Homo sapiens: one gene and its partners. The protein of the gene in region 2 purifies or fractionates together with the protein of the main gene of each other region. This does not show direct contact. Each region holds a gene or a part of one and is shown on either strand. Other genes may lie near its edges. The genes, in order: PC, CDH2 and SPTBN1.

What was found.
Region 1: the proteins of CDH2 (region 2) and PC fractionate together in Homo sapiens (co-fractionation; one large-scale study listed by BioGRID). This does not show direct contact.
Region 3: the proteins of CDH2 (region 2) and SPTBN1 fractionate together in Homo sapiens (co-fractionation; one large-scale study listed by BioGRID). This does not show direct contact.

The regions. Positions count from the first base shown.
Region 1 is NC_000011.10:66,874,744-66,878,397, forward strand, and holds part of PC (pyruvate carboxylase, mitochondrial precursor), read right to left. Parts: exon of another isoform or gene 3,567-3,654; intron 1-3,566. UniProt on the Homo sapiens protein: Pyruvate carboxylase catalyzes a 2-step reaction, involving the ATP-dependent carboxylation of the covalently attached biotin in the first step and the transfer of the carboxyl group to pyruvate in the second.
Region 2 is NC_000018.10:28,170,513-28,174,166, forward strand, and holds part of CDH2 (cadherin-2 isoform 1 preproprotein), read right to left. Parts: intron 1-3,654. UniProt on the Homo sapiens protein: Calcium-dependent cell adhesion protein; preferentially mediates homotypic cell-cell adhesion by dimerization with a CDH2 chain from another cell. Cadherins may thus contribute to the sorting of heterogeneous cell types.
Region 3 is NC_000002.12:54,462,816-54,466,469, reverse strand, and holds part of SPTBN1 (spectrin beta chain, non-erythrocytic 1), read right to left. Parts: intron 1-3,654. UniProt on the Homo sapiens protein: Fodrin, which seems to be involved in secretion, interacts with calmodulin in a calcium-dependent manner and is thus candidate for the calcium-dependent movement of the cytoskeleton at the membrane.

The DNA of each region.
Region 1 (3,654 bases), on a different chromosome or scaffold from region 2:
AGCAAAGAAAAGAAAAACAAGACACAAATCAGAACATTTCAGATCACAAGTGCCTGGAAGATAAGAAACAGGTGACATTTTGCGAATGATCTGGGGCGGGTGCAGGGGTTTGGGGGCTGGATATTAGAAAAGGCCTCTCTGAGGAGGGGACACAGAAGCTGGGACCTGGATGGGGAGAAGTCGGCCACGCACAGATCCGCAGAGAAAGCTCCAGGAAGAAGGGATAGCAATTGTGAAGTTCTCAGGAAGAACAGGCTTGGTGCTGTCCTGAGAGAGGGAAGTGTGAGCCCACGGCCTGAGGTGGGGCTGCAGCCACAGACAGGGCCCAGTGGTTGAGGCCTCCCTTCAGCCATGGACAGGACAGGAGGGACATGATCGATGCACAGTGGAAAGGATCTCTCTGGACTGGCGAGCAGCAGGGGCTGACAGACGACGCATGTCTGGGGCAATTCAGAGGCTGAGCTGAGAGACGCGGAGCCTCTGACAGGGGGAAGCTATGGGGGTCGGGGTGGGGCTTAGGAAACATCTGGGCTATGACAGACAAGATTCGTCGAGAGACCCCCCATAGAAAGCAAGGTAGAGGAAGAAATCCTGTATGGGTGGGTGGAGATGACTTTTCCTGCTATAAGAAGGGCAAGACAGAAAAGGCAGGGCTGGGAGTGAGGCAAGCTCACAGAGGGGGAAGAGCAGGGACAAGAACCTGGGCAGCATCACAGGGGCGGTGGTGTCTGAAGCCAGGGAGAGAACAGCCTGGGAGAAGTGGGTCAGGCCTGCGTCTTCAGGCCCACTGGAGTTGAGTCTGGCCGAGGAGGAAGAGCCAAGAAGGAGCCCAGGGGGGATGCCTGGAGGAGGGAGGGACGCACGGGTCGCTGGGCAGAAGCGAGCGGCTCTCAGGAGGATGGGGCGCGAGTTGGGCAGAGCATGACTCCCAGAGGCAGGGTAAGATGGGGGCTGGGAAGGGGCCACTGCGGTGACCAGGAGGCACCCAGGTCACACCCGGCTATGGTGAACGTGGGTAGAGTAACCTTGCTGGACTCTGGGCTCCTCCTCTTTCTAAAATATACCTTGTCCTTATTCATTGCACAGTGGAGAAACCTGGCGGACACCACGCTGACCGAGAGATGAAGGTTAATATCACTAGCACCGAAGGGATACCACACACCTCCTGATGGGGTTCCCGCTGCCGTGCACGGCCTGAATTTAATCAGGAGAAAGCAAGGGGCAAACTCAAATTCAGGGAAATTCCACAGAATAACTGGCTTGGACTCTTCAAACATGTCAAAGGTCGTGAGAGACAAAGACGCAAGAACGGTTTCAGATGAAAGGAGACCAAAGCAACAATGGTGAGAGCCACACACGATCCTGGATTGGATCCGGGTTTCTATTGCTAAGAGGACATCAGGGGACAACGATACAATTTAAATAAGGTCTGCAGGTTTGAAAGAGGATTGCGTTGATATCAATTTCCTGATCTTGATCAGTGGACTGTGGTTATGTTAGAGAACAGCCTCATTCTTAGGGAAAAACACTGAGGAACTCAAGGGTCCACGAGCACCACATCTGCAATTTACACCCACTCACATGGTTCAGGGAAAAACGGGAACAATGAAGCAAATGCTAGTATTGGGGGAACTGGGGTCAGGGGTACGAGAATTCTTTGTCTTACTCTTGCAACTTTACTGAAAGTCTGAAATCATTTCAAATTGACAAGTGAAAAGAACCATACCCACCGCTAATGCCGCTGGAGGAGATAACCTTAGGGAGTGCATGCCCCAGCACCTGCTGCTCAAGAGGTGCCGGGAGCACCAGCGAGGAGCTCAGGTGTGGAGACACCCTGCTCAGAGCAGGATGAACGTCAGACGTTATCACCCTGCTATCTCCCACATGCAGATCTACAATCCTCTAAGCCCTGCTCCAGGCGAGTTATCGGATGCTGCCCACTAGGAGGACAGGTCTTTCCCAGCTGGGAGCAGGCGGCACTGGCATCAGAGAGCAGGTGTGGGGTGTAAATCTCACCCTCCTCCTGGGCACCAAATGTCTACTCTGCTGAGCGCTGGGAAAGGCCATGTCAAAAGAGCTCAAGTTACCACATAGGGCAAAGTCAGGAAGAGGCGAGGGGAGCCTTCGGGACAAGCACAGCAACAAGACAGCAAACACAAGTGGCTCTTGAACCCACGAGAAAGCAAGAGATTCAAAATACAACCATGAGGTGCCACTCCTGCCTGGGAGCTTTGTAAATGCAGTGCTGAGCGCCAGGAAGGCCTTCAGGAGGCGGCCCGCAGGCACTGCTGAGCATCACGGCAGCTTCTCCGGGAAGCTGTTTGCAAAACTTATCAAGAGCCTTTAAGGTATTTATGCCCGGCCAGGCGCGGTGGCTCACGCCTGTAATCCCAGCACTTTGGGACGCTGAGACAGGCGGATCATTTGAGGTCACGAATTCAAAACCACCCTGGCCAACATGGTGAATCCCCGTCTCTACTAAAAGTACAAAAATTAGCCCAGCATGATAGTGGGCGCCTATAGTCCCAGCTACTCGGGAGGCTGAGGCAGGAGAGTTGCTTGAGCCTGTGAGGCGGAAGTTGCAGTGAGCCGAGATCGCGCCATTGCATTCCAGCCTGGGTGATAGAGCGAGACTCCATCTCAAAAACAAAACAAAACAAAAAAAGCCGGGCACAGTGGCTGACGCCTGTAATCCCAACACTTTGGGAGGCCAGGGCGGGTGCATCACGAGGTCAGGAGATGGAGACCATCCTGGCTAACACGGTGAAACCCCATCTCTACTAAAAAATACAAAAAAATTAGCTAGGCATGGTGGCGGGTTATGCCCCTGAGCCCAGTCATTACTATTCCAGAAATCCAACCCCAGGAAATATTCCAAAATGGGAACCAAGATGTACGCAGAAAGATGTTCAAAGCAGCATTATTTACAACAGAAAATCATGAGAAGCAATTTAAAGATTCCACACCCTGGCTCCCACAGACATTATGTAACCATTAACAATAATGTGTTTGCACAGGTTTTGATGACATGGGAAATGCTTGTGATGTAATGTGAAGCCAAGAAAATTTAATGGTAAACAACATGATCTCATGAAGTTTTTTTAAAGGAATGGCAACAACTGTAGGACTGCTTGCATGCCACCCTCCTCACTCCCACGTGCTATGGAATTGCTGTAGAGTTGTGTTTTCCTCCTTCTTTATGCTTTTCTATATTTCCATATGGAAAATTTCCATATTTTCTCCATTGGGGATGCGTTATTTATAATTAGAAAAAAAAGAAGAAATATACAGAAGGGACAGGAAGAGCTCCGCAGGAAAAGGCGAAGGGAGCTCCTGCTACACCGACTCCTTGGGTGGGAGGACTTGGCTATGTGTCTCCCAGGAGCCTAGCACCCTCCCCCTCCTCACCTGCTGGCCTGCCTATAGGTGAGCAGCCTCACAGCTGGCAGCAGCCCACTGGCACCGAGATTCTCAAACCTCCAGGGCAGTTTCAAGCTTTTTCCAGGGAGCCCCAGTCCTTTCCTCCCACCTGGGTGGGTTTACCCTGCGACCACAGGGGCACTTACCCGTGGTTTGTGGGTAAACAGGTCATTTTTGTTGCTCTCCTCCCCTGTCCACACCACACTCACTCCCCACTGCCTTTTCCATGCAAAG
Region 2 (3,654 bases):
TTTTTTGTATTTTTAGTAGAGACAGGGTTTCACCGTGTTAGGCAGGATGGTCTTGATCTCCTAACCTCGTGATCCACCTGCCTTGGCCTCCCAAAGTGCTGGGATTACAGGCATCAGCCACCATGCCTGGCCCTCTGTAGCTTTTTTAGGTTCATGACTATTCCCAAAACATGAGGTGGCTTAACAATCGCTTTCTTGAACCTGAACTAGTAGAAAATGTTTTGTTCCCTACAGCAGGGGTTATTAAATTTAGCTTAACATTATGCCATAATTTCTTAAATCATTTCTTACTCATGGACTTTTAGAGATCAAATAATCCAATCTTTCGTAATCATAAGCAATGCTTCAATAAATATCTTCGTATATGTATCTATACCATGTGTTTGTCATAAATACATGCATACCTGTACCAAAAAAAAAAAAAAACTAGAGGAGGCCAGGAGCAGTGGCTCGTGTCTGTAATCCGAGCACTTCGGGAGGCCGAGGCAGGCGGATTCCCTGAAGTCAGGAGTTCGAGTCGAGACCAGCCTTGCCAACATGGTGAAACCTCATCTCTACTAAATATACAAAAATTAGCTGGGCATGGTGGCACACGTAATCCCAGCTACACAGGAGGCTGAGGCAGGAGAATTCCTTGAGCCCGGGAGACGGAGGATGTAGTTGAGCCAAGACTGTGCCACTGCACTCCAGCCTGACAGAGCGAGACTGTCTTTAAAAAAAAAAAAAAAAAAGCTAGAGGAAAACTTGACAAAGGGCTAGAGCTGTATTTTTAATGCTGACCCACTTATATTTTTAATGTTGACCCCCTATCACTCAATTCAATGGCTCTCCTGAAGGCTATCTTCTCTCAAAGAAACATGAGCTCATAAAACTAATAAAAAAAATTTTCTCAGTAATATTACACTTACCTTCATTTTAAGCCTAAAAATAATTTTTATTCTCAGTAATATTACACTTACCTTCCTTTAAGCCTAAACCCCTCCCCAAAATTGTTTACTTTTACTGGCAAAGGTAGCACAGCCAATGAAGAAAATTTTAAGTTTAAAATTCAGGCATATAAAAAATATAGATGACTTTAAACCTATCACGATAAACTACGGTTAATAAATCTTCAAAACTCACATTCTATCACTCCAAGTATCTGAAAATTCTTACATTTTCGGCTGAAAAAAGCCTTTCCACAACCTTCGAAAAGGAGATGTGTTTGAGATATTTTTTAAGTAGCCCCAGGAATCATGCAACTGGACAGTCTCTTAGAGATCAACTAATCCAACTAGGCCCAAGATTTTATTGTTGAGGAAAATGAGGTCACGGGACTTTAAGAGAGTAGACTACATCTGGACGAAATCAGAACCCCATGCTTCCTGCCCTGGACACTAGCTCTTGCCCTTGACACTACACAAGGGCATTCACTTACACAGATCAGTTATTATACTGTTGGTGCCTAAACCACCTTTCATGACATAAAGTAATCAATCAATTATTGATTGACACTTCATATCAGACTGTACTCAGTGTTGCAGGAGACTCATATGTATATAGCAGTCCTCAACATACATTTGGGGTGTGTGTGTGTGTGTGTGTGTGTGTGCGTGTGTGTATGCAATCCAAGGGCTTGGGGGCTGTAAGTACAGTTGGAAGCAGATGAGGAAGTGCACTGAGTACCAAAGAGTGAGCGACAAGGAATAAAAATCTAAGCAGAATTTAATCTAAATTTTCCTTAAAGAGACTATTATAACATAAATCATAATGTTTAAATCTACATCTTTCAAAAAGTCCCATTTAGCTTGTGAATTCACCTTGTTCTGCCTACTTTAGACCTATCACTTCATACATGCAGAAGATATAGCTCTTACTAAAACATTAATATGTATATACCTCTTCCTTGGCATGGATAAGGTTGTTTAATTAAAACTTACATGTATTTAGTTAAATACAAAGACTAGCATCTGCTCAAATTAACTGATGTCTTTTTCTGAAAAATTAAAATAAAAATAAAATTTTAGTAGAAAAAAACAGAAATGTGAGACACAGTGATTTGTTGGTACCAATTATGTTTCAACTTAAAACTCTTAACTTGAAAATACTTAGGTTCTAGCAAGTATACTGCTGTCAGAGCGAAATACTTATTCAGATGACAAAATCCAAATTTAAAAATCTATCACATTTTTAAATGGCTGACAAAAACCACCACCAAATCTAAGCAGTGCCTAAACTTGATTACTTTTTTGTATTTGAGCCAAAAGAACAAATCTGAATGTTAACCTGGGAAAAATGGTAGTGTATATACGAACACAACACTTCTTAAATAACAGCTCTGATTTTTAAAAATCACTCTTCTAACTTCATAATAACCCCTTGAAAAGAAGATGGGGATTTTAATCACTTAGGATTAAAAAAAATAGGATTTAAAGCAAGATTAACTGTTGCTTTAAGTCTTGACATTTCCCTATTAATAACCCTAAAGCTTAATGAGGCACAACAGATTTAAGAATTGAAATTGTTAATGAAAAAGAAAATTAAGGACAGTTTGGTGCTCTATACCATCATGAAAATAATCTGCTCCAGAAAGATTTTAGTCTCTACATGTAAAAAGCAAGAAATATCTAAAAAGTATTTCCTTGTAAAATCTCAGTCTGAACTTTTAGAAGGTTAGGGCAGACTTTGATGAAAGTATAAAAGTCAGAAAGTACCTATGGTTTAATATATAGTGTTTTAAAAACAAGTGAGGATACATAAAATACTGTTTTTCAAATTACACCTAGTATGTTTGTAACCTTTCACCTATTAGTAATGACCGCATGCCTCAAGTTAAGAAAAGCAAAGAAATATACATAACTGTGTCTAGTAAGTAAACTCTGAACACCAAGTTAACTCTTCTTATTTTCACAAGAACTTATGTTTCAAAAGCACATGAAAATCAAATAAATACTGAGAATAAACACGATTTACACTTAAAATCACTGCTGAATCCTTGCCACATTCTAGAACAAAGCTGCTTCTTTTTATGTATACTTCATATGTTGAATATTAATTTCTTTAAAATCTGTACCTAATAGGTGAAAAACACATAAGGTTTATCCATCGTTTTTCCAAGGTCCTCACGCAGGGTTGAAACCAGGATCTGTTAAGTCTTAGAAATGAATTTCTATGAACATTAAAATACTGTCCTAGATGCCCCATAACCCATACAAACGTATTTAAATTAGAACAATGGGGTTATGCAATTAAGATGTGAACTAGAAAAACAACACAGGTTTCTAATATATTAATTAACTAGGTCAATGGTAAAAGCAACATTGATTTTTTTTCTTAACAATAAACCTATGTAAAGATTTGAAAGTCACTTGTATTATTTAAAAGGAAAGCTAGTTATAACTTTGTGATATAATATTTTATACTTTTATCAGGTAAGCTGAATGCTCAAATTCGGATTTTTTAATATAAAAAAGGCTAACATCTTAAAATAAGACTAAAGAAAATCTTGATGTTGAACATCATAACATGCAAGATTGACTAGAATTATGTAAATCTACATAACAAGACTAACTAAACTAGTAATTTCTCTAAGTAAAATAAGGTACACAGACACTTCAGTTAACAATTCAAGGCACAGAGTCCTTTGAATATTCAATTATATTTAGCTTGTAAAAA
Region 3 (3,654 bases), on a different chromosome or scaffold from region 2:
CTGCCTCAGCCTCCCGAGTAGCTGGGACTACAGGCGCCCGCTACCACGCCCGGCTAATTTTTTGTATTTTTAGTAGAGACGGGGTTTCACCGTGTTAGCCAGGATGGTCTCGAAGAATAAACATACTTAATTACACAAATTACACTTTGAAAATACATACCTCAAAGGAATAAATTCTGTTGTACTTATATATCATCCTAAATTTCATACTAATTGATCTATTGGGTAAAAATCTATAGTTATGTTCTAATACATATTTTACTGCCTAACTAGTGGCTTCAAATTTGTATATTAAAAATCAGAACTAACAGGGCATTCTCGATTCTAGAGCAGAGATATTAAAATGGTTCTAAAAATCACTCAGATGTTTACTGTCACAGTTGAGAGTTTCTTAAGAATGGACGTATGACTCCTATAAACAAGGGTCAGTTTTAAAGCAATCTTGATAACATCTTATTTTTATATGTCAAAGCACAATTAATCCTGAAAGCTTCTTCAAACAACCACTCAGTTAAAGCTGATGGCAGAAAAAATACAAAATTAATGGAAATTCATTAATTTTTATAAGCTACATTTCACAAAGTACCAACACACTTAGAGACTTGGACCATAAAATAGAAAGTACTATTCCCTCCCAAACATTTCCTCCACTGGCTAAGGACAACTTGACTCATTCATGGGACTCCTTTTCAAAATACTGTCTCTATAAAATTCCCCATTTAAAATGTTTTAAAATATGTGCCTCCCTTCGTGGTAGAGATTACTCAATCAAACACACACCTCTCTCTCCCATGTGTGAGATATATATATATATATATATATATATATATGAGATAAACATGATATGTATGCATCATATATGTATATATACAAAAATATAACATTGCACAGGAATTTCTTTTCATACAAAAAACGAAGAATATTAAAATTAGTTCCTCTCAATCTTAGCCTACAATATTCCCAGATGCTGAGATACCATTCACTGAAAGTAAATCTAAATCTGAAGTGATTTTTATTTTAAAATGTTCACTTGGAATTTTACCTTCATTTCTGACCAATTCCACTGAAACCTGATGGTCTAATGGTTACAAACTAGCTCCAGTAGCAGTGTTTAGGTTTCCACGAGTGAGAACATGCACGTCATGGAATTCCACTGCTCTGCACTCAAGTGTGGAGACTGGAAATACCAAAGAACCCTGGTCCTCTGCTCTTTTCAAGCTGCCTAGGTTAGTGTAGAGAATTAATACATTTGAATACACTAATTTATCTCACACCTATACCCTTAAGATGCTAACTTACACACTGTATCATTGCTCTTAGAAAACTGCAAAGAAGGACAGATATAACAATCGCTGGATTTAAAACTATTTCTTAATAATGATCTACAATTGGACAGATTTACTTTTTTCTTTCCTTTTTAAAAATTAGAATTTTTAAAGTGTTGATTGCTTTTTTGATTATTAAAAAATGGTGCCCAAGGCTGGGCACGGTGGCTCACATTTGTAATCCCAACACTTTGGGAGGCCAAGGCAGGCAGATCACTTGAGTTCAGGAGTTGAAGACCAGCCTGGGCAACACGGTGAAACCTCGTCTCTATAAAAAAATTTAAGGTTTAAAAATTAGCCCTGTGTGGTGGTACACGCCTGCAACTACTTGGGAGGCTGAGGCAGGAGGACTGCTTGAACCCAGGAGGTCAAGGCTGCAGTGAGCCATGTTCGTGCCAATGCACTCCAGCCTGGGCAACAGAATAAGACTCTGTCTCAAACAAAACAAAAGAAAACAAAATAAAACAAAAAAAAGTTCCTCAAACAAACCAAAACAAATGGTCCTCATGGTCATCTATTATATTATTTACTGCATTCTTCTCTACCGTGAAATATTTCAAAACTCAAAAAGAGAAACATTAAGTCATGGGAATTTCCTTTCATACAAGAGAGGAAATCACCCATCAACCTACCATCCAAAGCAAACCATTAACATTTTAATGTATTTCCTTCCAGTCTTTTACTTAATACAGTAAAACCAGGATTATAGTACACTATACAATTTTGCATCCAGATATTTCCACTAACCCCTGTATTACCGGCATCTTCCCATCTCAGTAATATTCTTCCAAACCATTATTTTAAGCACTACATTGAATTCCACCCTACAGTTGCGCCATAATTTATTTGATTATGTTCCATTAAAAAACATTTCCCCTTTTCTCTATTAATGTTGCCAAGAAAATCCTTGTTTAAAAACTTGTCCTTATTTTTAATTGTTTTTGTAGGTTACCAAGCTACATGTGAGATTTCAGTTCAAGAGGTATAAGCATTTAAGGCTTCTGTTACATATATATAACCCAACTGTTTTCCCCTAAGTTTGTATTAATCAAAATATGCTCTCAACAGGTGATGCAGAGCTCCCATCTCACAGCAGCCCAGAGCATAATATCTATCCATTAAGTGGAAAAATTAATTAATTTAGTCTGTATTTCATACACTGGTGAGTTTGAACTTACAGTTATCGACCTCCTTGATTTCTTCTTTTATAAACTATCTGCTCATATCATTTCCTTAGCTACTAAGGCTTTAGCATTTTATTGTTTGTTTAAAAAATACATATATATAAATCAGATTTTCCTTTCCTATTATTTTGACATGATGTATAGGAACAGGTTTAATACAGATGGAACTTAGCATTATTTATCTAAATGATTGTTATTTGCTAGAATATACCTTTTCTAAACAAATCAAACTGTTTATTTGAAAGAAAGCATAATATTAAGTCAAACTAAGCAAAAATTCCACATTTTATAATCATTAAAATTTATTGTGATAAGCGCTGAATTACCTCATTTGGCTTTAATAATCCTATGTGGTAGATACTCTCATTACGACTATTTTACAGATGAAGATGTTGAGGGACACAAAGAAGTCTAGGCAGTTTGCCCAAGGTCACTTAGCGTGTGAGCGAGGTGGGTGGGTTGTGTAAAGAGCCTGAAGCCTGGGGCCCAGGGCCCCTCCATCCAAAGCCTCCCATCAGCCTCTCTAGCCATGACCTCTCTCCAGCTCCACTGAGGATTGTGCTGGAACCTCAAACTCAAACATGTTTAAAGCAAAACTGATACTCTTCCCAATCAAATATCCAATCATGCACTTGACTTGTCTATTTGTCATCATCACCAAACATGCTCATTGTCATTATTCAAATTTGAAATCTTTATCACCTTAGCTTAGCTCGTCACCCACTAGGTCCACCTCCCATCCATCCTGCCATCCATTTACCCTACAAATAGCTTCGCATAGGATTGGGCCTTCACAACCATTTTCCCATCTCTCCTCTCCTTGTTCCCTTGGCCACCACTGTAACTTGCTCCCTTTACTTCTGGACCCCCAGTCACCTCTCTCCTGTCTCCTTGCTTCTAGTTTCTTCCAGTCTCACTGTATTCTGAACACTGCCAAGGTGATGAGTTTCTCAAGTATCTTATAATCACAGAATTTAGAAGTGTACAGGAGCTTAAAAACTGAATGCCAGATTTAATCGAGTGGTAGTTACTGCCTAGAACACCATGTCGAGAATATGACTGAGACTATCTCAGCTCAGTGGAAAAAGAGTACCATTACTGATTTTCGATGTCTGCCAGGAACAGAAGCGAGTGATGGCATGTGC